Regions from separate parts of the Homo sapiens genome. Here all the other regions are linked to region 3. Evidence: fine-mapped expression QTL. A gene starts in region 3. Each other region holds a variant in brackets. All regions are shown on one strand. Distances are between the middles of the regions.

Region 1 (8,108 bases), 270 kb before region 3:
TCAACTCTTTACTCCACGTTGCATAATAAATGACACTGTGGAAAATAGCACTCATATAAAGAACACAAAACGTCCTGGTTGCTTTGGTAATAGCGACCACTACTTAATAGGCGTATGACTAACGAAAGCTCCTGCAATGTGCTTTACGACTTACCATTTGGTCTCTGATGGACCACTCCATTTCTGTGCCACCCATGTCCGCTCAATAAGCTGAGTGGCTCCTGGATCTCCTTTCTCAGTGCCCTACACTGGTAACTGTCCTTTGTGTTAACAGTGAGGGTCATTTTTGTTTTGAAGAGAAGTTACAGATGTCTTTATATGAAAAGGTCAAACCCTTATGGTTTTAAATAAGTTAAGGCTACCTGACAAAGACAAGGAATCAGGGCTAGGAGCAATTGTGTGGGCAGCACTTGATGGTTAAGGAGCCCGAGAGTGTTAGACCTTTCAGCTCAGTTAGCTGTTTTCCTTGTTTGTCAGATTATGTGCAAAATAAATTTTGCTATGAAAATCCACTGCCTTAAATCAAGTCATAAAAGTTACCCAGCAGAATCTGTAAATTAACCAGGAACATGTATTATCTCAAGATAATAGAATGTTTGTAGGCACCTGAGTGTTTGTCAAAAGTAGACAATGAGCTAAGGTTTATTATCTATTGTTTTTTTGGCAAGGAAGATTCGTTATGAAAAAAACTAACAACAACAAAACATACAATTTTAATCAAACTTTGAACACTCTCTGGGTAAATTAATTAATTAAAGGCTATCTTACATCTATATATGTATATATTTTCCCATTTGTACTTGATACCTTTTATCAGGAAAGACTCAGTAGGACCCTGATTTTGGGAGAAGTAAAAAAAATTCTGGTCATTAAATAAACACACCATTTTTTTCCCTTCAAGTTATTGAGCCTTCTTTAACGTTATCACACACATACACACATACAAAGGAGCAGCACCAGTACATCTACTCAACTGCAATGAAAAAATAAAAGTAAAGATGCCATCAAAACTTGAATAAGTCAATAAATCATAACTTAGTCTCTTTCTTAGATTTACTTAGTAATGTCCAGTGAAGAACTCTAGTTAAAAATACAAAAACAAAACCCAGCAGTTAATGAGCTACTGATTAGAAAGTAAGTGCCTAAACAATACCAGCGTAGCAGCAAAATACAGTTATTGTTAACATTCTGATGCACCTCATTTATCATTTTGTGCAAGAAAAATGACCACAGTCTGGCCAATTCCAGATTTCAAACTAAATTCAAACTCATACTTAATTGAGCAAATTATGCTTATTTGAAAATAAATGAATTAAATTCACCTCAGAGAAATTATTTGTATAGACATAAATCATGTAGCAAATAAAGTACAAAATAAATATCAATGACAAACATATTGGAATCAACTTCCCTAGCTGAATTTGGAGTGTGAGGAAAGATGATACTGCAATATACGTATTTTACATGTCTTAGGTCTCTCTTATGCTATCGAGGTAAAGCCAGCCATCTGAGACACGTTTTCTGTTTCTTTTTTCTTTTTTTTAAATTTAAATGAACTGTAGCCATTTGATGGCAGAAGTTTATCTGTGACTCAGAGAAACCACAAAATGTTTTATCACATCAGGGTCTGTGCTTCGTGTTCTTCTCAACTTTCTCTCGTCTTCCAAAACGATGGACATTAATCCAATTGTACATCTAACAACCGAGAAGAAAACACCCGCTGGATCTTGGGCAGTATCCTGTGTGTGGCTACAAAACTTCCACCCCAGATGTTCGTCCACAGGAGATGAAGACTAGGGGTGAGGAGGCTTGGAGAGACAGTGGAGAGGGGCGCACTGGGAGCTGGAATGTGGCTGCTCCTCAGGGAGAGCTGTGTCAGGACTGGAAAGGAGAAACAAGCACGTCAGCAAGAAACACATTTCAAAGGGCCAGGCACAATGGTAGGGGTTAGACGAGATATTTTTGCATAGATTTTGAGAACAAGAACAGAAATCTGCACAGTAAATGGTTTCCATCTAAAGCATGCCAAGATAATGGTAGCTTTTCAAAACAAGGCATAAAAAAGAAAAATGAAATGTATTAAGGAAATGATATATGCACTCTTCCCTCAAAGTCACTCTTCTCTTTTCTTGTTTTCCCTATTTTCTTGCCCCCAGCATTTTACAGAAGTTCTTCTCAATTTTTGCACGGTCTTGTTCTCCTAGGTCTCTGTGTTAGCTGTAAGATTTCATGAGATCAGTTCTTTTCAAACTTTAATATGCATGCAAATTACCTGGGGAGCTCAGTATAAAGGGCAGATTCGGATTCATTAGGTGTGGGGTGAGATCTGAGATTCTACATTTTTAATGAGCTCCCAGTGATGCTGATGGTACTGACAGGTTGACCAAGGCTTTGGAGTTTAGAGGATTCTATAGTTATCTGGTAGATCCAGATTCACTAGGATAAAGAATTTGCCTGTGGAAGTCTAATTTGCTCTAAGAATTCCCCCTACCTGCTTGGGCTTGGAGGTATAAGGAAGAGTTTTATATTTCACCCCCCCCCCCCTTTTTTTTTTAGATGGAGTCTCGTTGTTTTGCCCAGGCTGGTGTGCAGTGGCTCCATCTCAGCTCACTGCAGCCTCCGCCTCCCGAGTTCAAGCGATTCTCCTGCCTCAGCCTCCCGAGCAGCTGGGATTACATGCATGCACTACCATGCCCTGCCAATTTTTGTATTTTCAGTAGTGATGGGGTTTTGCTATGTTGGCCAGGCTGGTCTCGAACTCCTGACCTCTGGTGATCCACCTGCCTCGGCCTCCCCAAGTGTTGGGATTACAGGCGTGAGCCACCGAGCCCAGCCTAACATTTCCCATTTGTTAAGTGTATAATGTAACTTTCCAAACGACGCCTGTGATAGCCTCTAGTTTAAATGAACCTGTGCTCAGGCCTATCAGGGTCTGGATGAATAATCTTGAAGAATAAAGAAGCAAAATCATTGAGTTTCCTAGGGTAAAATGACAAAACACATTTGGGTTTGGGCCTTTTAAAATTTGACTAGCGGCCGGGCGCGGTGGCTCACACCTGTAATCCCAGCACTTTGGGAGGCCAAGGCAGGAGGATTATGAGGTCAAGAGATTGAGACCATCCTGGCCAACATGGTGAAACCCTGTCTCTACTAAAAATACAAAAAAAAAATTAGCTGGGTATGGTGGCGTGTGCCTGTAGTCCCAGCTATTCGGGAGGCTGAGGCAGGAGAATCACTTGAACATGGGAGGCAGAGGTTGCAGCGAGCCAAGATGGCGCCACTGTACTCCAGTTTGGCAACAGGGCGAGACTCCGTCTCAAAAAAAAAAAAAAAATGTGACTAGCAATGGGGGAATCACAACATGGAGATTTGTTTTTTTAATTAGAAAAGAGTATTTTTCTAAAACTCTGTTATATTCCCTTAAACTATGAAAGTCAGTACTATATAATTCATTTCTACCAGAAGTGATGTTTGAGAGAACAATTCAAGGCTCATTATTACTATTAATTTAAGCATAGCTTTTTAAAGCTAATTAAAATTAGCTTTAAATTTAATGGAGTTTAAAATGTAATGGAGTCATTAAAATTAGTATTAAATAATTTTTATCTTTGGTACTGAAATTATCCTCTACCTATATCTCTTGCATTTTAATACAAAATCATAATTATGGAAAATATCTGACTGGCTTGAGGTTATTCTTTCTTCCCAAACTCTTTGAAGTGCTGTAAATATAGTTTAAAAGAAGCTTTGCTGTTCTGTACTGGTTAAGACAAGCAGTGATAAAAATTGTTTTTCCTACCTATTTTTAAAATGTGGTATGTAAACATGGGAGAACTGGACCTTCAACAAAAAGCCTAAGAAAATAG[C/T]GCATAGTTTCATTTGTAAATTTTTTTGATATGGAATCTCACTGTCGCCCAGGCAGGAGTGCAGTGGCACGATCTCGGCTCACTGCAACCTCTGCCTCCTGGGTTCAAGCAATTCTCCTGCTTCAGCCTCCCGAGTAGCTGGGATTACAAGGGCCCACCACCGCGTCCGGCTAATTTTTTGTATTTTTAGTAGAGACGGACTTTCACCATTTTGGCCAGGCTGGTCTCGAACTCCTGACTTCAAGTGATCTGCCCACCTCGGCCTCTCAAAGTGCTGAGATTACACACACGAGCCACCGTGCCCGGCCTCATTTATAAATTGGAAAATAAGCCTGGGCGCGGTGGCGCACGCCTGTAATCCCAGCACTTCAGGAGGCCAAGGCGGGCGGATCATGAGCTCAGGAGATAGAGACCATCCTGGCCAACATGGTGAAACCCCGTCTCTACTAAAAATAATTAAAAAAAAAAATTAGCTGGGCGTGGTGGCGGGCGCCTGTAGTCCCAGCTACTCCGGAGGCTGAGGTAGGAGAATGGCGTGAACCCGGGAGGCGGAGCTTGCAGTGAGCCGAGATCGCGCCATTGCACTCCAGCCTGGACGACAGAGCGAGACTCCGTCTCAAAAAAAAAAAAAAAAAAAAAAAAAAGGAAAATAAATGAAGAAAATCTTAGGCCAAGCATAGTGGCTCACGCCTGCAATCCCAGCACTTTGGGAGGCCGAGGCAGGCGGATCACCTGTGGTTGGGAGTTCAAGACCATCCTGACCAACATGGAGAAACCCTGTCTCTACTAAAAATACAAAAAAAAAAAAAAAAAAAAAAAATTAGCCGGGCGTGGTGGCACATGCCTGTAATCCCAGCTACTCAGGAGGCTGAGGCAGGAGAATCGCTTGAACCCGGGAGGCAGACGTTGCGGTGAGCTGAGATCACGCCATTGCACTCCAGCCTGGGTAACAAGAGCAAAACTCCGTCTCAAAAAAAAAAAAAAAAGAAGAAAGAAAAGAAAATATTTAAAACAGAAAATAATGTATGGCAAGATTCACACTTGACCCTCCAAACAGAGTTTGACGGCCTGGTAAACAGCAGGTTATAGGCCAGACTTTCCCATCGACCTAACAGTTTTTCTGCAAATATGCATGACTTAGACTGCTGACTTCCACAGCACATATAGTAAAAAAAACTCCAATTTTACTATACGTGCTGTGGAAGTCAGCACCAGAACTAATTTCTTTTTAGGGAACTAAACATATTATGCAATGTGATTTATGGCAAGTAATGCAGAATCGTCACATTACACAAGAAAGATATGGCTTTTTTTTCTTTTCTTTTCTTTTCTTTTTTTTTTTGAGCAGAATCTCACTTTGTCGCCCAGGCTGGAGTGCAGTGGCACGATCCCAGCTCACTGCAACCTCTGCCTCCCAGGTTCAAGCAATTCTAGTGCCTCAGCCTCCTGAGTAGCTGGGATTACAGGCCTGCGCCACCACACCTGGCTAATTTTTGTATTTTTAGTAGAGACAGAGTTTCACCATGTTGCCCAGGCTGGTCTCGAACTCCTGACCTCAAGTGATCAGCCTGCCTCTGCTTCCCAAAGCGCAAGGATTACAGGCATGAGCCACTGTGTCCACCCAAGAAAGATATGTTTTTGAAGACCTTGTGTAATCCAATACTTTTTTTTTTTTTTGAGACAGTCTCAAACTGTCGCCCAGCCTGGAGTGCACTGGCGCGATCTTGGCTCACTGCCACCTCCACCTTCCGGGTTCAAGTGATTCTCCTGTCTCAGCCTCCCGAGTAGCTGGGACTACAGGCACATGCCACAACACCTGGCTAATTTTTTGTATTTTTTTTTTTTTAGTAGAGACGGGGTTTCACTGTGTTAGCCATGACAGTCTCGAACTCCTGACCTTGTGATCCACCCGCCTCAGCCTCCCAAAGTGTTGGGATTACAGGCGTGAGCCGCTGCACCTGGCCCCAATACTCTTTTTGATAAAGGAAGACAAATATTTCTTCCTGACCAGCTGAAGTGTGTAGCTATAGCTTAAATATGGGTTACAACTCACTTTGCCTAACACCTTGACATTACATCATTCGTGATGATTTAAATTTTTTTCATTCCTTTAGATAGATTTCTTACATAAAGTTATTATCTATAGTATTAATATTTTTAATTTGCATAAAATGCTGCAATCACATGGTGTATATTATGTGTAAATTAACCTGTAAGACACACATTCTTGGCTTACAGGTTAAGATACTATTTCTTGGATATAAATATTTGATAAATTATAATCATTTAAGGCATAGAATGAATTCAGTTTCAGTTGTGATTGCTAAATATTTTCAAGAGTCCACTTGTTATTCAACATTTACCATTGATTTTACTTTACATAGGTAGATCATGTTGTAAATGGCAAGTTTAGGAAGCTGTTACTAAGATATAAAATTGGATACATCTTCAGGAAGTTTCTTTTTTTTTCCCAAGTAGAAAACTACTTGATAGAAGGGAAGTGCTAAATACCAAACAACTCTATATATTTCAATATTATATCCAAGGCTATATACCTTGGGCATTCCTTTCATATTATAATACCTATTATCTATAAACAATTTTGATAATTTAGCTCTACAATGGAATTAGCCTGTAAAAAGTATACATGGAAAAGTTCTACTTTTTTTCTGTTTTTGGAGACAGGGTCCTCTTCTGCCACCCAGGCCGGAGCGCAGTGGCACAATCTCGGCTCACTGCTGCCTTGAACTCCTAGGCTGAAACGATCCTCCCACCGCAGCCTCCTGAGTAGCTGGGACTACAGATGCAGGCCACCATGCCTAATTCTTGTATTTTGTTTTAAAGGACAGGGTTTCACCAAGTTGCCTAGGCTGATCTAGAAATCCTGGGCTCAAGCAATCTTCCCACCTCAGCCTTCCAAAGTGCTGGGACTACAGAGGTGAGTCACCATGTCCGGCTGAAAAGTTCTACATTGTTAAAGGTGAGAAAATGCTCTTTTATTAAAAAATCATTCACCTTAAAAGCTGTTTGAATATATGTATAAACCGAGGGAAGTACAAAATAATTTTTTTTTTAAGATGGAGTCTCACTCTGTTGCCCAAGCTGGAGTTGTCCAAGCGTGATCTTGGTTCACTGCAACCTCCGCCTCCCTGTTCCAAGTGATTCTCCTGCCTCAGCCTCCTGAGGAGCTGGGATTACAGGTGCCTGCCACCATGCCTGGCTAATTTCTGTATTTTTAGTAGAGATGCCGTTTCACCATATTGGCCAGGCTGGTCTCGAACTCCTGACCTCAGGTGATCTGCCCACCTTGGCCTCCCAAAGTGCTGGGATTACAGGCATGAGCCACTGGGCCCAGCACTCAAAATCATTTTTCAAAATGAGAAACAGAACACCTGATGTGAAATAACTCAACATTCTTAGCACATCTTCTGTTTCTCATTAAACAAACATTCCTCTTCAGTTTGAGGGAAAAGGAATCATGGTGGGTGATTTACATACTCTGACTTTGCTCCTCACAGTGTAACTGAAATAGATTTCTCCTCTGCAGTGCAGCCACCTGTGGTGGTAGGTAGGAGTCACTAGGCTCAGTTGTGTTCAGGATATGTGACCTTGAACAAGTCATTTTACCTTCCCAAACCTCAATTTCGTCACATAAAAATGGGTGTAAGACCAGGTGTGGTGGCTCATGCTTGTAACCCCAGTACTTTAGGAGGCTGAGGCAGGCAGATCACTGGAGGTCAGGAGTTCAAGGGCAGCCTGGCCAACATGGTGAAACCCTGTCTCTACTAAAAATACAAAAATTAGCTGGGTGTGGTGGCACACACCTGTAATCCCAGCTACTCGGGTGGCTGAGGCAGAAGAATTGCTTGAACCCAGGAGGTGGAGGTGCCAGTGAGCCAAGATCACGCCACTGCACTCCAGCCTGGGCAACAGAGGGAGACTCTGTCTCAAACAAAAACAAAAACAAACAAAAAAACGCCAAAAAACTAAACCAAACAAACAAAAACAACAACAAAAATGGGTGTAATAACTGTGCTTATCCCTTATGGAAGGCTGTAATGTTTAATATGTGTAAAGAAATGAACCCTTGTCTGGTTTATACTAAGAATTCGAATGTTGGCTATGTGTTAACTTTTCTGCCAAGAAGGAGTAAAAAGGGCAATGAAGGTATTAACATTGACCCATTTGGCAGTGTGTATGGGTGGGAAAAGAGTCAGTCATCATCCCAGCAATTTTGGAAAA
Region 2 (8,108 bases), 180 kb after region 3:
ATTTTTTAGTCCTACAAAGGCAGTCTAGTCCCCAAGCAGGAAGGAAGTTTGTTTGGGGAAAGTTAAACTATAAATTGAGTTCCTCCCTGAGTTAGTTCTACGTACACCCAGGAGTCAAATTGGATAGCTTGAAGCAAGATGGAGTTGGTTAGCTCAGATCTCCTTTACTGTCATAATTTTCTCAGTTATAATTTTGCAATGGCAGTTTCTATCTTGTCTCTCCAAAGAGCATAATCTTTACCTGGTGCCTTCAGAATGAGGAATTTTTACCCCATAGGTGTTTTGACTTTATTCATCTTTGTTTGAAGGGGATCTGAATATGCGACCCCAAAATATGACACATTGTCATAGGAAAATTTTGAGCTGAAGGTAATTGAGAATCAGGAGATGCAGGTGGCTGGGAGCGGTGGCTCATGTTTGTAATCCGAGCACTTTGGGAGGCCAAGGCAGGAGGATCACTTGAGCCCAGAAACTCGAGACCAACCTGGGCAACATAGTGAGACCTCATATCTGTGGCAGGCCAGTTCTCCCTGACAGTCACACAGACAGGGCTCCATAGCACTCCATTTACATAGATGAATTTCCACAGCGCTTGCCTTAATATTGGGCTAACAATTAAGTCTAGGGAAAATCAATGCTCGGACGTCAGAACCAGAAATGAAATATATGTTCAGTAAGTGCCTTGCACAGGCTTCTCCTAAAACCTGGAGCACGTCAAGATAATGGAGACAGCCTTACATTCCTTGTACCAGGATCTGTCTCGGGTTGACATCTGGGGCGAGTCAAGGTAACATAGACAGTCCTTGAAACGATTTATTTTAAGGAGGAGGGTCTGGAGCAACTCTTAGGACCAAACCGTAGGTAAGATAAAGTAGAAGTAATTGCTCTGGTGCCAGGATCCTCCTTAAGTAAATTTAGGAGACATTTCTTAATCACCCTGGTACGAGGACCCTCACGGATTAGGTAGATTTAGAGGGCATTTTTGGCCTCTGACCTTCTAGTTGAAGCAAAATTAATTACTGATAAACTTAGGCAAATGTGATACTGCACGTAGGCATGTAGTCCAAACATGTATGAGCATGGGAAGAATTGTAATACCTTGAGTTGGTCTGGCGAATAATCTCTGATCTTCTCCCTGTATCCAGTTACAGAAATAAACTCCCTTCTTTCCCAGTCCATCTGCATCTCATTATTGGGCTGTGAGAACATACAGCCAGGCCTGGTTCGGTTCGGGAACATCTCCACCAAAATTTTTTTTTTTAATTAGCTGAGTGTGGTGGTGCTAGCCTGTGGTCCCAGCTACACAAGAGGCTAAGGCGGGAGGATAGCTTGAACCCTGGAGGTCGAAGCTGCTGTGAGCCATGATCATGTCACTGCACTCCAGCCTGGGTGACAGAGCCTAAAAGCAGGGCATAAATTTCCCATTGAGGAAGGTGCTTCCCCACCCACCCAGTACCAGGGAGAGAAGAGTGATTTTTACCAAAGATGGGAATTAACACCAAGATGAATTTGCATAAACAGATCTTTCTAAAATAGCCCTTATCTTCCATTAATTCCCCCATGTTTCCTACTCAGTGCCCCACAATTAGTTCCTTGAAGCTCAAACCCTCTTTCCTTTGTTAAAAAGGTACATAAAACCGCAAGTCTAACTACTTCTTTCCTGAGAACTCTTTTGCATGCAAATATTAATAAAAATGGTGTGCCTTTTCTCCTGTTACTATGTCTTTTATTAGTTTAATTTGCAGGCCCTCAGTTACAAAACATAAGAGGGTTGAGGAAAATTTTTCCTCTCTGACATGTTTCAGTTAAAAAGGAACCAGCCTGACCAACATGGTGAAACCCCGTCTCTACTAAAAATACAGAAATTAGCCCGGTGTGGTGGTGCATGCCTGTAATCCCAGCTACTCAGGAGGCTGAGGCAGGAGAATCGCCTGAACCCAGGAGGAGGAGAATCGCCTGAACCCAGGAGGCAGAGGTTGCAGTGAGCTGAGATCCTGCCACCGCACTCCAGCCTGGGCAACAAGAGCGAAACTCCGTCTCAAAACAAAACAAAACAAAACCAGCTGAAGAAGTTCCTTTGATTAACAGCACAGCACGGAAATGTTAGCTCTCCTTAGCCAAACCTTGAAAGATACTCTTATTTAATCACAGTTTTAAATGTTAGCTTGCTTACCTTAAAAAAAAAAAAAAGCCAGAAGTCAGATATTCATGATGTGAGATAAAATTCTTAAGTGTGGAGGGAACAAAAACTACAACCTTTTGTAAAAGTCACAAAAGGCCAATCTATTGTATCACATATCCTCAAAGAAGAGTCAGGGCATGCTGAAACATGCTGTGTTTTGTTTTTACTAACATTTTCCTTATTACAAAAATGTTACATTCTCATTAGATAAGAATACTTAAAAAAATAAAATATTATCAATATAATTAATGCACTGGTGTTTTTCCTCCTATAACTTTTCTGTGCATAGTTTTCCCTTTCTTTAATTACATGTTATAATGTAATCCTTATAAACATAATTTTAATGATTGAATATGTTTCCAAGGAAAAGAAATATAGTTTACTAAACCATTTCTCTAGTCGTGGACAAAGAGTTGATGGAGACATTTATTGTGTGTGTGCTTTTACATTGACATTTTAAAAACAAGAACTTCTGAAAAATACAAAAGTACAAAAAGTTGCAAAAATTCAATTTCCTACTTTCCTCCCCAGAAATAACCACTGTTTAATTTTATTTTGTGCATATCTTTCCAGACCTTTGTCTTTGAACATACATTCATATTGAAAGGCAAAATCCTTACACAAATTTGCTAAATTAGTTATAAGATTGCTTAACTTTCTCAGGGCAATAAAGACCTGGAACATTTGGAATTAATGTCTCTATCAGGTGGCAAAAGCATCCTAACAATGTATCAATGTTTACAGATTAATTTCTAATCTTATAGAGCAGTAGTGCAGTAGTTTTTCTGTACCTTCGTCAGATGTTGGTTCTTGTCGGCTCTTCATATTTGTGGGTTTTACATTTGAGGATTCAACCAACTGCAGATCAAAATATTTTTAAAAAAGTAGTTGGGGGCGGTGGCTCACGCCTGTGATCCCAGAACTTTGGGAGAACAAGATGGGGGAGGATCATTTGAGCCCAGGAGATTGAGACCAGCCTGAGTACATGGGGAGACTCCATGTCTACAGAAAATAAAAAAATTAGCCAGGCACTGTGGTGTGTGCCTGTGGGACACAGCTACTTGGGAGGTTGTGGTGGGAGGGTCGCTTGAGCCTGAGCAGTTAAGGCTGCAGTGAGCCGGGATCATGCCACTGCAAAACTGCACTCCAGCCTGGGTGACAGAGCAAGACCCTGTCTCAAAAAAACAAAAAACAGGCTAGGCGAGGTGGCTCATGCCTGTGATCCCAGCACTTCGGGAGGCTGAGGCGGGCAGATCACCTGAGGTCGGGAGTTCGAGACCAGCCTGACCAACATGGGGAAACCCTGTCTCTACTGAAAATACAAAAAATTGGCGGGGTGCAGTGGCTCACGCCTGTAATCCCAGCATTTTGGGAGGCCGAGGTGGGTGGATCACGAGGTCAGGAGTTCGAGACCAGACTGGCCAATATGGTGAAACCCTGTCTCTACTAAAAATACAAAAATTAGTCGGGCGTGGTGGCACTCGCCTGTAGTCCCAGCTACTCGGGAGGCTGAGGCAGAAGAATCACTTGAACCTGGGAGGCAGAGGTTGCAGTGAG[C/T]CGAGATTGTGCTACTGCACTCCTGCCTGGGCAACAAGAGCAAAACTGTCTCAAAAAAACCAAAAACAAAACAAAAAAAGAGGCCTAGCACAGTGGTGTGGAGTTCCAGCTACTCAGAAGGCTGAGGTGGGAGGATTGCTTGAGCCCAGGAGTTTGAGGCTGCAGTGAGCTATGATTGTGCCACTGCACTCCAGCCTGGGCAACAGACTGAGACCCCGTCTTTTTTTTTTTTTTTTTTTTCAGATGGAGTCTCGCACTGTGGCCCAGGCTGGAGTGCAGTGGTGCGATCTCGGCTCACTGCAAGCTCCGCCTCCCGGGTTCACGCCGTTCTCCTGCCTCAGCCTCCCGGTAGCTGAGACTACAGGCGCCTGCTACCACGCCCGGCTAATTTTTTGTATTTTTAGTAGAGACGGGGTTTCACCGTGTTAGTCAGGATGGTCTTAATCTCCTGACCCCGTGATCTGCCCACCTCGGCCTCCCAAAGTGCTGGGATTACAGGCATGATCCACCGTGCCTGGCCGAAACAGTTTATTAACATGTGCCGCCTGTATACACGCCTGACCCTGTCTCTTAAAAAAAAAAAAGATTGCTTCTGTACTGAACATGTACAGACTATTTTTTCTTGTCACTAGTCCCTAAACAATACAGAATTACAACTATTTACATAGCATTTACATTGTATTATGTATTATAAGTAATCTAGAGATGATTTAAAGTGTGTAGGAGGATGTGAGTAGGTCATATGCAAATACTATGTAATTTTACATAAGAGACTTAAGCATCCGTGGATTTTGGTAACTGAGGGTGGATCCTAGAACCAATCCCACATGGATACTTATCATTTCTTACGAGTGTGACATTCGGGCAAGTGGACTTGGAAAATGATCTGGCATGGTATCAAAAATCAAGCAATTGGCTGGGCGCGGTGGCTCACGCCTGTAATCCCAGCACTTTGGGAGGCCGAGGCAGGTGGATCTCGAGGTCAGGAGATCGAGATCATCCTGGCTAACACCATGAAACCCTGTCTCTACTAAAAATACAAAAAATTAGCTGGGCGTGGTGGCAGGCACCTGTAGTCCCAGCTACTCGGGAAGCTGAGGCAGGAGAATGGCATGAACCCGGGAGGCGGAGTTTGCAGTGAGCTGAGATCGCGCCACTGTACTCTAGCCTGGGCGACAGAGTGAGACTCTATCTCAAAAAAAAAAAAAAAAAAAAAAATCAAGCAATTATCATTTACCTCTTTACAGAATTGGTATACATTTTCTTTAAATATACATAGAGTATACATATTTAAGGTATATATTTATACACACATACCTTCTCACTTGGAAGTTATGAAAGTATTTTCTAAAATTTTTTTTCTGTTAGCTTTATATCTTTATTTGGCTTAAAATTTTTAAATCCCCCCTGCCCTGCCACCAAAAGTATTTATTATTTGATATGATGTAAGGATTTTTATTTTTCTTGAAAACAAACAAAACAGCACCTGTTGAATAGTTCATCTTTCCCCACAATTTGAAAGGAAACTTTAGGTTGCTATATAGTATACATATGCACTTGAGTCTATTTCTGGACCTTATTCTTTTTCAGTGGCCAATTTGTCCCTGCTTAAATATGACAATGTTATTTTTTCTTCTTTTTTTGAGACAGAGTCTCACTATGTTGCCCAGGCTGGTCTCACAATCCTGGGCTCAAGCCAGTCTCCTCCCCCAACCTCCCAAAGTGCTGGTATTGTAGGCATGTGCCACCACGCCTGGCCAACAATGTTTTGATAGCTTTATATTTTGATATCTGGGACAGCATGTCTCCCATATTTATCCCTGTACTCAAAATATGTGATGTATGTTAATCAACTCTTCATGTTTTTATTAATAATTTATATTATTTTTAACTGGTAGAATCTAGGCATGGTCAAAAGAATAAAAGGAAAAATTAATCACACTCCCAATTCTGCATCTCAGCCATCCAGTTTGCTTCTCCAAAGGCAACTAATATTCTAGCTTCTTGGGTATCACTATATGGATATTCTATAGATCATATTTGAGTTGTTTCTATCTTTTGGCTTTTGCAAAGGTGAAATGGACATTCTTAAAAAAAATATATATATATATATATATATATATATATATATTTTTTTTTTTTAAGACGGAGTCTCGCTCTGTCGCCAGGCTGGAGTGCAGTGGTGTGATCTTGGCTCATTGCAACTTCTGCCTCCCAGGTTCAAGCGATTCTCCTGCCTTAGCCTCCCGAGTAGCTGGGACTACAGGTGCATGCCACCATACCCAGCTAATTTTTGTATTTTGCAGAGGTTGCAGTGAGCTGAGATCATGCCATTGTACTCCAGCCCAGGCAACAAGAGCAAAACTCTGTCTCAAAAAAAAAAAAAAAAAACTTAGCCAGGCATGATAGTGGGCAACTGTAATCCCAGCTACTAAAAACACAAAAAATTAGCCGGGCGTGGTGGCGGGTGCTTGTAGTCCCAGCTACTCAGGAGGCTGAGGCAGGAGAATGGCGTGAACCCGGAAGGTGGAGCTTGCAGTGAGCTGAGGTCACGCCACTGCACTCCAGCCTGGGCGACAGAGTGAGACTCCGTCTCAAAAAAATAAAATAAATAAATAAATAAATAAAATAAACTCAGTCATTCTGGTGGATAACACAGATAACTTTGTGGCTTTCCTCTTCACTATGGGGGATAACAGCTTTAACTGTTTGCTATTTGTAATTCCTATTTTATGTAATGCCTGCTTAAGACTTTAGCATGCTTGGGAAGAGGATGTACATCTTTTCCTGGTTTTCATTATGGATTTACAACTTTGCAAAATGTTTACATCTTTGAGCCACCTAGAATTAACTGTAATGGAAGGTAAGCTGTAGGAGTTCAACTCTCGTTTTCCAGCTGGCTACTCAGTTGTCACAATACTATTTATTGAACAATTCATCCTAGATAAATATAGAATCAATTTTTGTGCATGTCCATTTTTTATCTATTGGCAACTAATAAGAAGTAAAACCAACACTGCAGACAAGCATATGAGAGAAGGTATTTTAATTGAGATCTTTTATAAATTGCAATTTGAGAGACACAAATCGAGCAAGCAGCTAAATCATATTCCATACAGACAAGCTGGGCAGGGGCTTATAAAGGTTCCTGGCAAGTTTATACAAGTGGAAAATTTTAGCACAGTCTATGATTGACAATGGCTGATTGACAGCTTAGATGTCTCTTGGTGATGAACGACCTAATTTGGCACAGCTGTCTTCTCAGGAGATTTGTGATCAGGCCCAGTGTAAACAGTTCACATCAAATTCAGCTGCTTCTTTAGGATGTTTGTGATTTGGTCCAATTTGAACATGTCAAATTTCATCTGAGTATATGGGTGATGGGGGTCCAACTCCTTATGCCCTCCTGGCTCCTTTTTAGAGACCTCTGGCATAATCATCTCCATTTTGGATTTCTTTTCAGATTTTCCCCTTTTGATTTAAATATTTCCTTAGAAACCACTGAGATCAATTATTTCAGTAAGCCCTTTGGTTCTGGAATAGATTTGTCCCAGGAAGTCATGTCCCATGGAGGAGGGAGTCATGGTAATGATAGTGGATGATCTGTGTCAAATGGAATAGTCCAAATTTGAGCAACAAGGAGGAGTTGAGGATGTGGGCCCCAATTGTGGTGCACATATGTGGTTAGGGTAGGATTCATGATTGTAGGCCTAATCTGTCAGTTCAATGTGTTGAGCCACCATAATTTTAGTTTCGTTGACAGCAACAGTGTGGCATCAAGCTGAGAGAGGAGAAAAGAAAGAACCAGCTAGGAAGGCGGTTAGGGCAGGTGCTCAGTAGAATTCTTTCAAACAAAGGAACAACCTGAAAACTCAGGCTACAGATACAGATAAGGGAACTAGCACAGGCAGCTTGCCTAGGATATACCCATAGCTGCACAGATAAGGAAGCAAGGCCCAACATAGAAGCACCTTTGTTCTTTGTGTAAGCAGCAGCCTTCCAGGAAATAGTTTCTTTTCCTTTTGTGGGCATGTAGATGGTGGGCTGTGGTGAGTACATTCCTTTCCTTTTTTGGGCATACTTTGGACTGTGAGCCAAACCTCTATGAATCATCACTCCAACACTAGGCTGGTTGTGAGCCAAGGCTCCAGTTGGTCCTTTACACCATCATGCCATTTTCTAAGTGGTGCCTTTTCTAAAGACAACCACCAGTCAGCCAGCACACTAGGGGTACAGGGTGGAGCTACCAGAAATTCACAACTTATGCAATTTCAGTTATGCAAATGAAATGCCCAGACCCATCTGGTTCCTCTGGGTTCCTCATAACAGCCTTTGTACTCAATTGTGAAATGGCAACCCTCTCAGGTCC
Region 3 (8,108 bases):
CCCTGAACATAACTGGGCATGGGTGACCCTCACTCAGGTCACTGAAGAGCAAGTGTTACTTGTGAAATCACAAAACCAGACTCAAGTATTCTAGTGGACATACTGCTCTGTCCAGCTGCCCAAAGAATCATGAAAAGGAGAACACTTTGATGATGTCAGAAGTCATCCTTTTTTCAAATCCTTAGTACTATTCTTTCAAGTGTGTTCTTCTGTGAGCTGAATTACAGTAGTCCATGCAGAGCACTAAACAACATCAGGCCAGGTCAAAAAACAATTGAGTTGAGGGAAGAAATAACTAGGAAAAAAATTTAATGAATTTCATCTTCTTGATTTTGCACATCTTTAGGCAACACTGCCGACTTGCATTATTGTCACAGCAGTACCTAGCCTGGGAAGGAAGGTAGCAACATTGGTGGGTACTGACTCTGGAAAACAAAATGATCTGCAAAGACTGAGCCATGTTGCTATACTGCAAATTACTAATGTCCAATTTGGACTTAATACAGTAGTTTTCTGTTGACATTCCCATAAACTGGTTCAATTATTTTTAAATAAATCATATTTGTTCAAAAATCCTAGAAATAAGCAAAGATTTATTTTATGCTTGGCTTTATAGATATAATGCAACATCATTTACTATACATACCTGATGAGCAAAACTTTCTTTTGAAAAATCAAAACACTCACAAAATATTTTTCAAAACTGAGGTGTTGGAACACCTCAGTTTGCACAATTATTTTGGATTTACTTTTCATACAAGAAATGTTACTTGAAATCAATTTAACTCATTTAAGTTATATTTCCAACTAAAGTATATTCTATGTTTAAAGAATAAAAATAATAGGCCTCACTATCAAATAATCAACTATAATAATTTTATTACCTAAAATACATTTTTATATAACTGTATAAACCAGTTTTTTAGGAATCTCGAATTTCACTTATGCTAAATGCAACTGAAAATAAATATATGAACAAGAATCGTTTAGTAAAAATAATGCTGGTAAATTTTTATTAACCTCCTGCTATATAGAACAAAATATATATTAAAATATTTATAGAAAAAATTTTAGTTGGTATTTGCATTATTCTGTATTAAGAAACCACAGTTACATTATTCCTACAAAACGTTTTTTTCACATTTTTCTCATTACTGCTGGTGAAACTAATACAGGTAGTTTTATTAACATCTGTCACTTCCTATACATCCTAATTTTCTTAGTATTTATCTAACACTAATCAATATTGACTAGTGAACCCTTGATAAAAGTGTGCCTTCTTCTAGTACAAACTGATTCTTTCATAAAATATTTCATGCCCACTGTGTGCTAGCTTTTGTGTTAAAGACTTGGGATGCAAAGCTCATGGTGTAGCAAAGGCAAAACACAATTGCATTAAGGTTTGCTATGCAAGGTAAGTGCAATGACAGAAATATCCCTAGAAGGATTGTTTAAATCAAGCAGCAAAGTCAGTAAGAGGTACATTTCATTAAATTAAGTCCATCTCCTTTATCAAGAAGGTGATGGCTTACCACTTTCTGGTTTGCACTTCCCTATCTTGGCAAAGCAGTGTTGATAGGTATAGACAATATCAAAACATCTCTGAGAATGACAGTCATCATCCTGCTTCCTCACTTCACAAGGTTTAGCATCACTGCATTTAAACATGTCAGCCTAATCTAAGTTGGAAAATATAAACAAGTCCAGCTGTTGTTAAGACCAGACAGGTACATGGTAAGTAAAATAGGAACCAGAAATTTACAGCCTGACACACAAAAATTAGATTCCTAGTTGGGATTTTTAATCATAGGTAGTACATTTATTTTTTGGTAGACAGGCATCCAAATAAAAATAAGACATATCTAAAAGTATAAATGCTTACCATATTACACACTAAATTGGAAGGCAAGTTGATTCAGTATGTCATAAATCACATCTTTTAACTGTAACAGCATAAAATAAATAATAGATTTTTGATATTATATGCCAAACAATAATTAACATTTAAATGTCAATATGCACCTAAAAATAAGGACTTGACACACAGAAAAGGAGTGTATATTACATTTAAATTTGTAAGTGGTTATTTGCTACCCATAGTGCCTCAAGAATCAGATAAAAAAGACCGAGTTACTTAAACAATATGTATGTTCTTAAGAGTGACTGATAGGAAATCAAAGCACGTTCATTGTTTTCTCCCATACATCCGACAGGCTTTAAAAGAGGCCAAATACCAAAAAACTAAAGAGACATTATACATCACCCATTTTTGATATTCTGGTTTTATAAATATATCATTTCAACCAGAAGAGCCTCATTTGAAATGCAACACTACCCACGTATTTGATATACACCACTCTTTCAGACTATTTGTAGGTGAGTTCAATTTTTTCTAGTCAGGGTGACCTCATAAGACTTGGACATGGCCCAGCCTCGCTCCGAGGTGAAATCAAGGCAGTGGGATCACCCAGCAAAGTTGTTTTTCTTCTGCAGCCCAATGACAAGAATGACTAAAGCCAAGCAGAATGAAGATTGCCTAGCCTTTGTCAAATGGGATTGGTGAGGAGTTCCCTCTCTCACCAAGGAGTGGTTACATCCAGAGGAAAGCTGAGGTGCCACACAGTCTAAATCCTGAAATTGTGGGTCCTCAGGCACAAACCTCATCACTTTTGTGGACTACGAAATTGTCGCTGAAACCTGGGTTTGAGATAACAGCGGTTTTGAGAAGTTTGATTTATACATTCCAACCCACTTGAATGTCGTCTTAGAGTGCTGAGACTTGATGACTCTTACTAATCTCCCTCCCCCGCAGGCCAAACAGCCATTGCCTCCCAAATTCCAGCTTATATATTCATTTCTTAGGCAATTTTTCTCTTGGGGGAGGAAACAATGGACTCTTTCAATCTTCTCTTACCAACAAAGGGCCCTAGAAGAAAAAACAGTCCTTTCAATCACCTCCTTTATGACTTCTTGATCATGATGAGTGGGCCTTGCGGGTGGGGGGAGTGAGGGCCAGGAAAGGGAGAGGTGACAGGCAACTCACCTCTTTGAGCTGCTCCAGCTCCTGTTTGAGGCTGTCGTACTCAGCCTCCAGTTCATCATACTGCTGTTTGAGGGTCAGCTTCTCCTCCAGCACCACCAGCCCGTACTCGGCAGCCTGGATCTTCTCGTGGGTGGTCTCCGTGAGCTCCTTGGTTAGCCTCTCTATCTCAGTCTTATAATGGTCCACCGTCTGCAATACCTCTTCTGCGGCCATAGCCCCGGTGGATGGAGGCAGGAGGGGGTTACGGGGTGGGGGAGATGGATGCGAAGCTGGCGGGGAAAGGGAGAAGGAAATGGGAAGGGATGGGTGGAAACGGAAAAGAAAGTGCGGCCGGATGAATGAGCAGCGCGATGCCCCGCCGGCTCTGGTGGCAGCGGCAGCTACACCGCCCGAGAAACTGACGAGAAATGCAACATGGAGAACAGGGCAGAGGGTCAGGGGCGAGGCGGCAAAGGCCGCCGCATGTGTCCTCGGGGCCGGCCCCTGCGTGCGGTCAGCAGCCGTGCGGCATGGCCCGGGCTGCGGCGGCCGCGGGTAGCGAGGGGCTCCGGATTCTGCTTATTCAGAGACGCCCGTCCGCCATGTCTCCCGGGCCGCGTCACTGCAGTCTCGCCCTGGGTCTGGCGCGCTCCGGCTCGCGGCTCGCTCTCTCGCTCCACCTGCTCCCTCTGGCCCTGCAGCAGCCGGTGCGGAATGATGCAGTCTCGGGGCCGGCTCCCTCCCTTCCCGCGTGGCGGCGGCTCCGAGCAGGGGGCGGGGAGCGGATGGAGTCAGCGCGGGGGGCGGAGGGAAGGACCAGACGGAAACATCCCGAGGCGCCTCCCGCCGGGCGCGCGGGCCGCCGCCCGCTGCACCGTGAGGCGCGCCAGGAGGAGGCGCAGGCGACGGGTCTGGGACTGGGAAGCGGTGGGGCGCGCGCGGCGGGGGAGCCTCCGCCCTGTCCGGCTCGCGGGGGCGGGAGCTCCTCCCAGGGCTTTGTCCCGGTGGCAGTAGAAGACCCCGAGAGCGGCGTGGGCGCCCGGGCTCTTTTGCTACGTCGAGGGCCGAAGCTCAGGAAACTGCCTGGAACGCTTTCTCCCGAGAAAAGCAAACAAAACTATCGCGGTCGCGGTCCGCGCATCCTCCTCGTCCCCTGGGCGCGCAGAAGGCTTTTTGGGCCACCTGCCCCCAAAAGACCGCTGGGTTTCCCAAAGCTTTCAAGACGCACCCCAAGGCGCCCTCCTCCGTCGTCCCCCTCTCTCCCTGCCTCTCCCAAGTCTGGCCTGGGCCACCTAACACTCTCACCAGATAACCTTACTATCCTCACAGGACAGTCCGCTAAATATTGCTCGCCCTCACCCAGCGTATCACAAGAGCGCTATCCACTCAGAAAAAAAATATCTCCACAATACATGCACCCAGGAAACCTCTAGCTAGGTACTGTATATCTTGCCCCAATAGTTTCCATCAAAGCACCTTACTCTGTGTCTTCAATAAAGGAAAACTGCTTGAAATTCCCTATATAAGATACCAACGATGCCCTGTAATAAGCATTTTTTAAACAATAAGAGCTAAGAGTTCTTGAGACCCATACCAAGCATTCTTCTAAGTATGTAACATGCGTTCTCTCCAATCCTAACAATGCTTTGAGGTAAGAGCCATTATCCTCAGTTTACAGGGGGTGAAAGGCAAAGGGAGATGTGATTTGTCCAAAGTCAGGCAACTCTGGAATCTTAACTCGGGAGCACTAAACGGGATCATTATGTTGGCTTCAGGTTCACTCATTACTCATACAAACCCAGCAACTACATATTACATGCTTTTAAGATAATCACATTAATCCATATGAAGAGTGATGATGAACGGTTACAAAAGGAGGTGAAAGCAAAGTAAGAGTGGAGTAAATGAAAGAGTGGAGAAGGGTCGAGAATCAAGAGGAAGAACGCAACATGAGAGAAAAGAAGCAATTTCTGTGTAACGGGAGGCTGTGAGACCCACAGATCAGTGGGTCTTTCCAGTTCCCTCTCTTCTTCTGCATGGCACCTATTCCAGAGCTGTTTCTCAGTGACCAGGTGATGAACACACATGCGTTTTCTAAGTTAGAAAGCAGGACTCAACTCTCCCATCATTGTGTACCTGGTAAAAAAAAAAAAAAAAAAAAAAAAGATGATTGTTGACCGGGCACAGTGGCTCACGCCTATAATCCCAGCACTTTGGGAGGCAGAAGTGGATGGATCATTTGAGGTCCGGAGTTCAAGACTAGCCTGGCCCACATGGTGAAATCCCATCTCTACTAAAAATACAAAAATTAGCCAGGTATGGTGGTGCACGCCTGTGATCCCAGCTACTTGGGAGGCTGAGGCAGGAGAATTGCTTGAATCCAGGAGGTGGAGGGTACAGATGGCACCACTATACTCCAGCCTAGGCAACAGAGACTCCATCTCAAAAAAAAAAAAAAAAAAGGACACTTGTTGATGGCGTGGGAGAAAAAGCATATGACAGTGCCCTTCCAAAGTTTCCACTAGCAGGCTGTCTGGATGTGTTTTCCATTGCTTCACAAACCAGACAAGTTTCCTTCTAAACGCCAGCGATCACAACAGAATATTCTCATGTGATTGTCTGATCTAAAAATAAAACAAAAGAATATTCTCTTGTGATTGTCTGATCTAAAAATAAATAAATAAAAGGAGAAAACATTCCAAATGTGCAGCCACCATAAATTCCAGCCTTGTAGAGAAGCGGATGATAATGACTACAACATCCGACCCATCTTTCCTTATCTCGCACTCCAGGTGGGAAGCCCCTCCTGTGTGCTCCCGTGGCATCTGACCTCTGACACGTTGATGAATGATGATGAACTGCTGAAAAGAGATGGAACCTGCAATTGCAGGTAGCTAACCTGCCTTCCCAGGAAGCCTCTGGCTGTTCCTCACTCTACAAACTGTAAGCATAGGCCTTCCAAAGGGATCATAAGACTCGCACTAGATTGCCTGTGCCTCCCTCTCCTTTGGATCAAACTAAGAACAGAGTTTGCCTCTGTGACTTTCCTTTTTGCTAAATTTCCATTGTGGTCCAGCCCCTATGCTCTATCCTGCCCCGTTTTTCTGATTGATACACTTTTGTCACTTGTCACTTTTGTCTGATTTCAGGCATGTCTTGCACACTCTGACACTTTAAGATGTTGCTTAGTTGAACTTTGATCCTTAAATGTTGGTATTTAACGTAAAGAAGATAAACTTATTTTCTTGTTTTTTTTCTCTTTTTTTCTGAGACAGGGTCTCCATCACTTAGGCTGGAGTGGAGTGGCATGATCATGACTCCCTGCAGCCTCAACCTCCTGGACTCAAGCGATCCTCCCACCTCAGCCTCCTGAGTAGCTGGAACTACAGATGAATACCACCACACTCAGCTAATTTTTTAAATTTTTGTAGAGACAGGGTCTGTCTATGTTGCCCAGGCTGGTCTCAAACTCCTGGGATCAAGTGATCCTCCCACCCTGGCCTCCCAAAGTTCTGGGATTACAGATGTGAGCCACCATGCCCAGCCAAATTTATTTTCCTATACACCATGCTGTTCCAGTACTGCATAGTTACAGTTCCCTCTTTTTTCGTATATGCCATATGTATTGCATATATATCAATGACAGGTATATAGAAAATAATTTCTTAAAGCATTCCTAGGCTGGGTGTGGTGGCTCATACTGGTAATCCTAGCACTTTGGGAGGCTGAGGCAGAAGGGTCACTTGAGGCCAGCAGTTCAAGACCAGCCTGGGCAACATAGCGAGACCTCATGGCTACAAAAAATTAAAAAATACTAGCTGGGCATGGTAATACATGCCTGTGGTCCCCAATACTTAGGAGGCTGAGGCAGTATGATGGCTTGAACCCAAGAGATTAAGGCTGCAATGTACTGATTGTGCCACTGTGCTCTAGCCTGGTGACAAAGCAAGACTCACCAAAAGAAAAGAAAAAAAGGCCAGGCTCGGTGGCTTACACCTGTAGTCCCAGTACTTTGGGAGGCCGAGGTGGGCGGATCATCTGAGGTCAGGAGTTCGAGACCAGCCCGACCAACATGGTGAAACCCCATCTCTACTAAAAATACAAAAATTAGCTGGGTGTGGTGGTGGGCGCCTGTAATCCCAGCTACTCGGGAGGCTGAGGCAGGAGAATCACTTGAATTCGGGAGTTGGAGGTTGGAGTGAGCAGAGATCCGCCACTGCACTCTAGCCCAAGTGACAGAGTGAGACTCCGTCTCAAAAAAAAGAAAAGAAAAAAAGCAAAAAAAAAAAGCACAAGCTAGTCTACTTGGGTCATATCCAACTTTGCCACTTACTAGCTGTGTGTTTCTCAGTTGTGTCATATCTAAAAAGGAGATAATAATATAATCTAATTATGAGATTGTTGTGAATAGAATAGTATCACACACATAAGCATTTTATATGTGCTTTTTAAAAGTTTTAAAAGAAAAACAAGGATAAAATTTAGGTAGAAAGAAGAAAAAAAGATAATCAGTAGAGATCTCTCTGAAGAAGTGATATTCATTTTATTATCTATGAGGAACAAAAAGGAGTCGGATATACAAAATGTGGGGGAGAAGCTTTTCAGGGAAAGGAAATAATGTGTAAAAGCCAAAGGCAGAAAAGAGCTTGTTGAGTGCAAAGAATAAAAATCTGAGAGGCTGCTGGGTGCAGTGGCTCATGCCTGTAATCTCAGCACTCTGGGAGGCCAAGGTAGGAGGATTATGTGAGCTCAGGAGTTCGAGACCAGCCTGGGCAACATACCAAGACCCCATTTCTACTAAAAAAAAAAAAAATTTTAATCGAACGAGCATGGTGGTGCATACCTGTAGTCCCAGCTACTTGGGAGGCTGAGGTGGGACGATCCCATGAGCCTGGCAGTGAAGGCTACAGTGAGCCATGATCGTGCCACTGCACTCCAGCCTGGGTGACAGAGCAAGACCCTGTCTCAAAAACAAATAAAAAAAAAAAAAAATGAAAGAGGCTGAGGATTAAGAAGCTCAAGGGAAATGGCCTAAGACTATATCAAGAAGTCAGGCAACATCAGAGAGATAGGCGGGAATTATACT
Region 4 (8,108 bases), 26 kb before region 3:
AAGGGGCTTACGATCCTCGTTTTCTGGGTTTGGGTGATGTTAGAGGAAAGTGCCCCAGCCCAGCACCATTCCTTTTTGCTTCTGGTTTGGAGCTCTAGACCACAGCCTTAGTTCTGGTCAGTTGTTAAGTAATTATTTAACAGTGTGACGTTCAGACCTGCATGACATCTATACAGTGTCCAGTAAAGAAAGAGAAAGCCATGGTCCCTACCTTCAAAAAAGAAAAAATGCCACGTAGGTGCTTGGTGATACAAAGTTGAGTAAGACACACATAATCTGGTGGAGGAAACAGACCTGAAAATCAATAATCACAGAACAGTGGAACATTATAGTTGCCTCAGTCTTTACAGGGGAACACAGAGGAGCACCAGCTAAAGAATGTGTACTTTGGACAAAGTTATATGCCAGGTACTCCTATATATATGATCTAATACAAAAATAAACATCAGTCCTATACTGTTAGATGAAGAAATAGGTTCCAAGATTTAAGAGGCAGAACTGAGAATGCAAGTCCTGCGCTATCATCCTCCACACGCCTCTCCTTTGTCCCTCTCCACCTTCCTTCCCCCTTTATTTTCCTTTCCTAGAAGGGAAGGAGGGTGTCAGCATCTCAATCAAAAGTCAAAACTCACATGTCAACAGGTAAGTGACAGATGATGTAAATGAGGGAAGAACAGAGATAGTGAGATAACTCAGATGAGATGGAATGGTGGGGACTCTGGTGAATTAGAGATTCACGCTCTTTCTAAAAGAAAGGTGAAGGTTCATGCCTGTAATTCCAGCACTTTGGGATGTAAAGGCAGAAGATCGCTTGAGGCAAGGAATTTGAGACCAGGCCAGCCAATATAGTGAAGTGTTGTCTCTACAATAAATTTAAAAATTAGCCAGGTGTGGTGATGCACACCTGTAGTCCCAGGTACTCAGGAGGCTGAGATGTAAGGATCACTTAAACCCAGCAGGTCTAGGCTGCAGTGAGCTGTGTTTGTCTCACTGCACTCCAGCCTAGGTGACAGCGCAAGAGACCCTGTCTCAAAAAAAAAAAAAAAAAAAAAAAAAAAAAAGCCACGCATGGTGGCTCATGCCTGTAATCCCGGCACTTTGGGAGGCCGAGGCAGGCGGATCACCTGAGGTCACAAGTTCAAGACCAGCCTGGCCAACATGGTGAAAGCCCATCTCTACTAAAAATATAAAATTAGCCAGGCATGGTGGCATGCACCTGTAATCCCAGCTACTCAGGAGGCTGAGGCAGGAGAATGGCTTGAACCTGGGAGATGGAGGTTGCAATGAACTGAGACCACACCACTGCACTCCAGCCTGGGTGACACAGTGAGACTCCGTCTCATAAAAAAAAAAAATAAAGGAGGGGAGCGGGGAAGGGGAGGGGAGGGGAATGGAGGGGAGGAGGGGGAGAGGAGAGGAGAGGAGGACTCATTCACCTCTAGCCCTCTGATGCCACACAGAAATGTGGGCCCAAGGCTCTGTGAAATCTTCCAGTTTTTTGAGACTGGCCTGAAATCCTGTTTATGTGATTCTGTTTCTTGAAAAAAGCAGCTCCCTAAATCAAAATGTTTATCAATCACCAAGCCTGACTGTGGCCACGGGATATCAGCTTGCAATATCTGCTGTAGACCAAAGGTGGCCAGGCTTGTCGGCATTGCTCCCGACACTATGGTGTTTCACTTAGAAAGTTTAACAACCACACAGTCATCGCAAAACAAACCACAGGACTGGTGCCACTACTGTTATCAAGACTTTATTCTAATTCTGAGGTATTAAGGAGAGAGGCACACAATGACAGAGTCGCGGTGCTGAAAACACCTGACTCACTTCCTTGACATCCCTACCAAGTAGCTTTTTGGCTCTGCTTAAGCATCATGATGAGCCAACAGGGAAGTCTCTCTCTCCTCAGATGGCCTGCTCACTTTCACTCTGCTCTTAGACATTAGAGAAGGTCTTTTTTTATATTAAGTTGACCTCTGTATCCCTGTATCTGCCACCCATTGGTCTCTGGACCACTTTACCTAGAACACAATATCCCAGGAGCAAGAAACCAACGTTATCATCACATTACAAACAGTGTTTCTGTTCATACAAAGATCATATCAGCTTTTTACTTGGACTAGCACACTTGCCTCCCTGGCCCTCGGGGACCATAGCATGATCTAGCAGTGCCAGTGAGTTAACAAAGGCTTACCAAGTTCCATGGTAGGGCACAGGGAGAGCTGTTATTTCCATCAGTCACATGTTTTACTTTAATTCTAGCTCAAGAATATATTTATGCCCCAGTCTCCATGTTCCTAATCTACAGTGCACAACTGCTTCCTATAAATAATTATTTTAACTTTGGTTTAAAAAGTACTGGCATCCAGCCAGGCACAGTGGCTCAGGCCTGTAATCCCAGCACTTTGGGAGGCCGAGGTGGGTGGATCACCAGGTCAGGAGATCAAGACCATCCTGGCCAACACAGTGAAACCCCGTCTCTACTAAAAATACAAAAAATTAGCCAGGCGTGGTGGCAGGCGCCTGTAGTCCCAGCTACTCAAGAGGCTGAGGCAGAAGAATGGCGTGAACCCGGGAGGCGGAGGTTGCAGTGATCAGAGATCGTACCACTGCACTCCAGCCTGGGGGACAGAGCAAGACTCCATCTCAAAAAAAAAAAAAAAGAACTGGCATCCATTTCAGAAACTGGATAAAGTTGGTTTCACAGAATGTTAAAAAGTATCCATGGCTAGTTTGTTTGACTTTATAGGAATAAAAATGACTTAACAGTTTAGCTTTATAACAGAAACTAAGAAATATGGCTCCACACTTAATATGCATCATGAAAGGTAGCCAACTTAGGTCCAGTAAATTACATCATAGAGCATTATAACTATAGAATGCTGCTTGTTTTTCTGGCAAAGTCATGAATCCCTTCCAAATGAGAAACATTTTGGCAGACTCATCTTTTTTTTTTTTCCCAGATGGAGTCTTGTTCTGTCGCCCAGGCTGGCTTGCAGTGGCACGATCTTGGCTCACTGCAACCTCTACCTCCCAGGTTCAAGTGATTCTTGTGCCTCAACCTCCCGAGTAGCTAGGATTACAGGTGTGCACCACCATACCCGGCTAATTTTTGCATTTTTAGTAGAGATGGGGTTTCACCATGTTGGTCAGGCTGGTCTCAAACTCCTGACCTCAGGTGATCCACCTGACTCAGCCTCCCAAAGTGCTGGGATTACAGGCATGAGCCACCCCGCCTGGCCAGGAGACTCATCTTAAAATTATTTTTCAGACAAAGTATCAATATTGGTATCCACAAGAATTTTCAAATTCAAATAAGCAAATATTTCGTCTCCTAAATTTAAGTGTGAAATATTATTTTATTCCTTTTTATATCTCCTTATCATATGATTTCTTTACATTCTTCCTAGCTCCTTATAAGAAACCTAGGAGCCATCCTGATTTCTCCACCTTCTTTTGCCTCCCATATTTAATTAATTAGCAAATCTTTCAACATATACCCTGAATCAGATCACTTCTTACCCTCAAGTAGATTCTCTCTCAGTCTAAGCCACCATCATCTCTTACCTGAACTACTGCAATAGCCTCCTAACTTGGCTCACTCTTCCACTGTCTGCAAGGAATAACCAGAGTGATCTTTTAAAAACATGTATGAAATCACATCACTCAGGCGGCTTAAAATAAAATCCAGACTTCTCACCAGGGCTCAGAGAACCTGCTTGCTGACTCCCTCTCCACTGCCCCTCTCACATTCCCCCTCCCCAACAACTGCCACACTGGAGTCTTTTGGGGTCCTGGTTGAAGGCAGTACTGCCCCCTTGGCGTTGGGGCGGGCAGTGGGTGTCTAGAATGTGTGACTGTTTTTGTAATGACAGTGACTAGGGATGCTAACCGTCCCGCATTGAGCCACACAGTCCCACAGTGCACAGCACAGTTCCGAGCCGCAAAGGCTTGCAGTACCCAAAATGCCATTTGCCATTTTCACAAAAACCCAGTTCATTCTCATCTCAAGATCTTTTTTTTTTTTTTTTTGAGACAGAGTCTCGCTCTGTCGCCTAGGCTGCAGTGCAGTGGCACAATCTCGGTTCACTGCAACCTCCGCCTCCCGGGTTCAAGCAATTCTCCTGCCTCAGCCTCCTGAGTAGCTGGGATTACAAGCGCCTGCCACCACACCCAGCTAATTTTTGTATTTTTAGTAGAGACAGGTTTTCACCATATTGGTCAAGCTGGTCTCGAACTCCTGACCTCATGATCTGCCCACCTTGGCCTCCCAAACAGCTGGGATTACAGGTGTGAGCCACAGTGCCCAGCCCCCATCTCAAGATCTTTACACTTACTGTTACTTTTGACCCAGGAACTGAAATATTTTCCCATCTTGCTCAAATATTTTCCCACCTTGCTCCTTCTGACCACTTGGGATTCAGCTCCAACATCATCTCCTCTGAAAGGCCATGCCTGGCCCTCATTTCTCAAATAGCCACCCCAGCCAGCACCCCCGCCAGTCTTGTTATTCCTCCACCTTGCTTTATTTAGTTTTTAGCACATATCACCCTGTAAAATTATGCATTTACTTGCTTAAGCTTTTGTTGCCTTTCTCCCCCACAAGTGTGTCAACCCGCTGAGGGCAGGAACTTTGTACCCTGGCACCTAACAATGGCTGGGGTATACCAAGCGTTTAGTCATCAGATATGCAGTGGATAAATGTCTCCATAATTTTTCTTATTTACGATCAGGAATTTT[T/C]TTAAATCTTCAATTTGGGAGTGCAGTGTCTCGTAGTTATCATTTCTAGTTATTTTTTCCTACACCAAGTTCCCCTTTTTGTGCAACAGAGTTGTTTTACATTCCACAATTTTTATTTTTGCAGAGGACAGAGAGGTGATGGTAAACTTAAAATATCCCAAATCACCATGCAACTGTTTCACAAAATGTGAAGGAGGGCTTTTTATGAACACAGTATTTTTGTAAGCCTCAGAGTAAATGTGTAAATTCTGGCTAACTGACCAGTAAAGCTATGGTAGGACCACTTCTGGGGGCAATAATCATCCGATGAGAGAGCAGCTCCCTTTACTGGAGCCACCGAAATAGAAAATGAGCACCACCTTTTGTCAAAAAGGCTCACAAATCTTTTCAAGACCGAGAAGAGCTGAAATATACGGCAACAGAAAAATAATTTTTTTAAAAAAATCACACTTTGAAAGCACTAAATCCAAAGTTCAAACCAGGTCTAGAAGTGAATTAGAGATAAGTGATAAGGGGGATGTATAGGCTTACAACTGGACTTTAAAATATGATTTTATTTAAATGTCACGGAGCAGCCTGGCGTGGTGACTCACACCTGTAATCCCAGCACTTTGGGAGGCTGAGGCGGGCAGATCACCTGAGGTCAGGAGTTCGAGACCAGCCTGGCCAACATGACGAAACCCCGTCTCTACTAAAAATACAAAAATTAGCCGGGAATGGTGGTGCATGCCTATAGTCCCAGCTTGAGAGGCTAAGGCAGGAGAATTGCTTGAACCCGAAAGGCAGAGGTTGCAGTGAGCTGAGATCACACCACTGAACTCCAACCTGGGCGACAGAAATAGACTCCATCTAAATAAATAAATACATAAATGTCAAGGAGCATTATTTATTTAACTATATAGAAGCCTGGAAAGATATGTTAAAAAAAGAATGAGCATACTTCGATTACTTTTATGTTCCACACACATATGATCTATGCTCAAACAGGGTCTAAATGAGATACTAGATGTTAAACAGTGCTTCTCTCTAACGAGTGGTATTTGGGAACTGACATACAATCACCTATGGCTTCTGTGAGACTGCTGGGCCCAAGCACTGTATGCATTTTAGATCTTAATACAGACTGCCAATCCACGTTCTCAAAGTTCACAGCAATTCACACTTCTACCTCTACACACTTTCCGACACTGTATATTATCATTATTTAAAAATTTTGGGGCCGGGCGTGGTGGCTCACGCCTGTAATCCCAGCACTTTGGGAGGCTGAGGCAGGCAGATCACGAGGTCAGGAGATCGAGACCACGGTGAAACCCCGTCTCTACTAAAAACACAAAAAGTTAGCCGAGCGCGGTGGCAGGCGCCTGTAGTCCCAGCTACTTGGGAGGCTGAGGCAGGAGAAGGGCATGAACCCGAGAGGCGGAGCTTGCAGTGAGCCGAGATTGCCCAGTGCACTCCAGCCTGGGCGACAGAGCGAGACTCCATCTCAAAAAAAAAAAAAATTTTGTCACTGTATATTATCATATTTAAAATTTTTGTAAATTAATGGGAAAAAAAGTAAACTTCCTTAATTTACATTCACTGACTACTCAGATTGAACATCTCTTCCCATTTACTGATTTACTTGCAAATCCTCTCTGACTAGTTGCTCTTTGTCCTTTTTTCCTATTGCATTATGTTGTTTTCAATAAACTCATTGTACCTATATTTTAGGAATAATAATTGTTTGTAAGTCATCCACATCGCACTATTTCTTCCAAACTGTTCTTTTTCATTTCTAAAACCAAATAAGTCAGTCCTCCCTTTTGATTCTAAGTTTTGTATCTTGCTTAGGGAAATTTCCTCCCAGTGACATTTAATAAATATTCTCAGGAATTTTCTACTGAGTAGAATTCATTTTTTTAACAAACCATTAAGTCCTTGGTATTGCAATGTAAAGTTAATGAAGGGAGGGGATAAAAGAAGATGAGAAAGAAAAGGGTACAGGGTTAAGAAAGAGACTGGAAAAGTCTTATTTCTTAATGTTGAAGAAAGAGTTTTAGGCCAGGTGCGGTGGCTCATGTCTATAATCCCAGGACTGTGGGAGGCTGAGGTGGGAAGATCGGTTGAGCCCAGAGTTTGAGACCAGCCTGGGAAACATAGTGACACCTTGTGTTTACAGAATTTTTTTTTTTTTTTTTTTTTTTGAGATGGAATCTCGCTCTGTCGCCCAGGCTGGAGTATAGTTGCGCCATCTCAGCTCACTGCAACCTCCACCTCCTGGGTTCAAGCAATTGTCCTGCCTCAGCCTCCCAAGTAGCTGGGACTATAGGCATGTGCCACCATACCTGGCTAATTTTTTTTATTTTTAGTAGAGACAGGATTTCACTATGTTGGCCAGGCTGGTCTCCAACTCCTGACCTCAGGTGATCCGTCTGCCTGGACTCCCAAAGTGCTGGGATTACAGGCATAAGCCACCATGCCCGGCCTACAAAAAATTTTTAAAAAATTAGTTGGGCCTCTAACCCCAGCACTTTGGGGAGCTGAGGCAGGCGGATCACCTGAGGTCAGGAGTTCGAGACCAGCCTGGACAACATGGTGAAACCCCATCTCTATAAAAATACAAAAATTAGCCAGGCACAATGGTGCATAATCCCAGCTACTCGGGAGGCTGAGGCAGGAGAATCTCTTGAATCTGGGAGGCAGAGGTTGCAGTGAGCCAAGATCGTGCCACTGCACTCCAGCCTGGGCAACAGAGCGAGATTCTGTCTCAAAAAAAAAGAAAAAAAAAATTAGTTGGACATGGTGGTGCATGCCTGTAGTCCCGGCTACTTGTATGGCTGATGTGGGAGGGTTGCTTGAACCTGGGAGGCTGAGGCTACAGTAAGCCAAGATCGTGCCCTTGCATTCTAGCCTGCGCAACAAAACAATACCCTATCTTAAAAAACAAAAAAAGGAATAAAAAGAAGTTTTAAAAGATTCTAAAGTAACAATACATTTCTCATATTGATATATTATGACAGGAAAAAAACTCAAGTATTTTGGCTTGAAAATATAAACTATAAACATATAGGAAAAATTTTGGTTTAAAACTAAGCACAAATTACGCTGGTTTTTTTTTAAGAAAAGGAACAATTATATTTTTCATAATACTAAAAATGAAATAATGTAAAGTGATAAAAAGCAATTAATTCCTACTTAGGTAATATTTCATCTCAGCCTTTTCCATTAAAACTTTAACTTTTATGTGATTATGAGGTTATTTATACCTAAAGAGACCATTTATGTATATAGAGAATTAGTACAGGCATTTATTCTTCCAGGGACTGAGATAAGAGGAAAATAACCAAGGGAAGAATTTGTTCAGCACTAGAGGCAATATTTCAGATGCT

The links. PIP is the estimated chance that this variant, and not a neighbour inherited with it, causes the effect.
Region 1: its variant is the best candidate, but not a certain one, in a credible set for the expression of BICD1 in whole blood (INTERVAL, PIP 0.64).
Region 2: its variant is the best candidate, but not a certain one, in a credible set for the expression of BICD1 in whole blood (TOPMed, PIP 0.57).
Region 4: its variant is the best candidate, but not a certain one, in a credible set for the expression of BICD1 in caudate (GTEx, PIP 0.88).

The regions. Positions count from the first base shown.
Region 1 is chr12:32,371,313-32,379,420 of GRCh38, reverse strand. It overlaps BICD1 (BICD cargo adaptor 1), which reads right to left. Exons shown (of 10, transcript NM_001714.4): 10 at 1-1,881. The coding sequence ends at 1,794. Among named protein-coding and RNA genes, the nearest start is that of FGD4, 24 kb to the left of the region's middle. The variant C/T (reference allele first, on the strand shown) is at 3,867.
Region 2 is chr12:31,922,628-31,930,735 of GRCh38, reverse strand. No RefSeq gene overlaps it. Among named protein-coding and RNA genes, the nearest start is that of RESF1, 33 kb to the left of the region's middle. The variant C/T (reference allele first, on the strand shown) is at 3,740.
Region 3 is chr12:32,102,480-32,110,587 of GRCh38, reverse strand. BICD1 (BICD cargo adaptor 1) reads right to left here and starts at 3,741. Exons shown (of 10, transcript NM_001714.4): 1 at 3,044-3,741. The coding sequence starts at 3,256. BICD1-AS1 (BICD1 antisense RNA 1) reads left to right here and starts at 3,126. Exons shown (of 3, transcript NR_185992.1): 1 at 3,126-3,194; 2 at 5,815-5,912; 3 at 6,298-6,471. RefSeq lists enhancers at 2,134-2,771, 3,299-3,378 and a silencer at 3,739-4,218.
Region 4 is chr12:32,128,340-32,136,447 of GRCh38, reverse strand. The region is part of intron 1 of BICD1 (BICD cargo adaptor 1); the gene reads right to left. Among named protein-coding and RNA genes, the nearest start is that of BICD1-AS1, 25 kb to the right of the region's middle. RefSeq lists enhancers at 1,929-1,988, 1,999-2,158, 3,940-4,441. The variant T/C (reference allele first, on the strand shown) is at 4,741.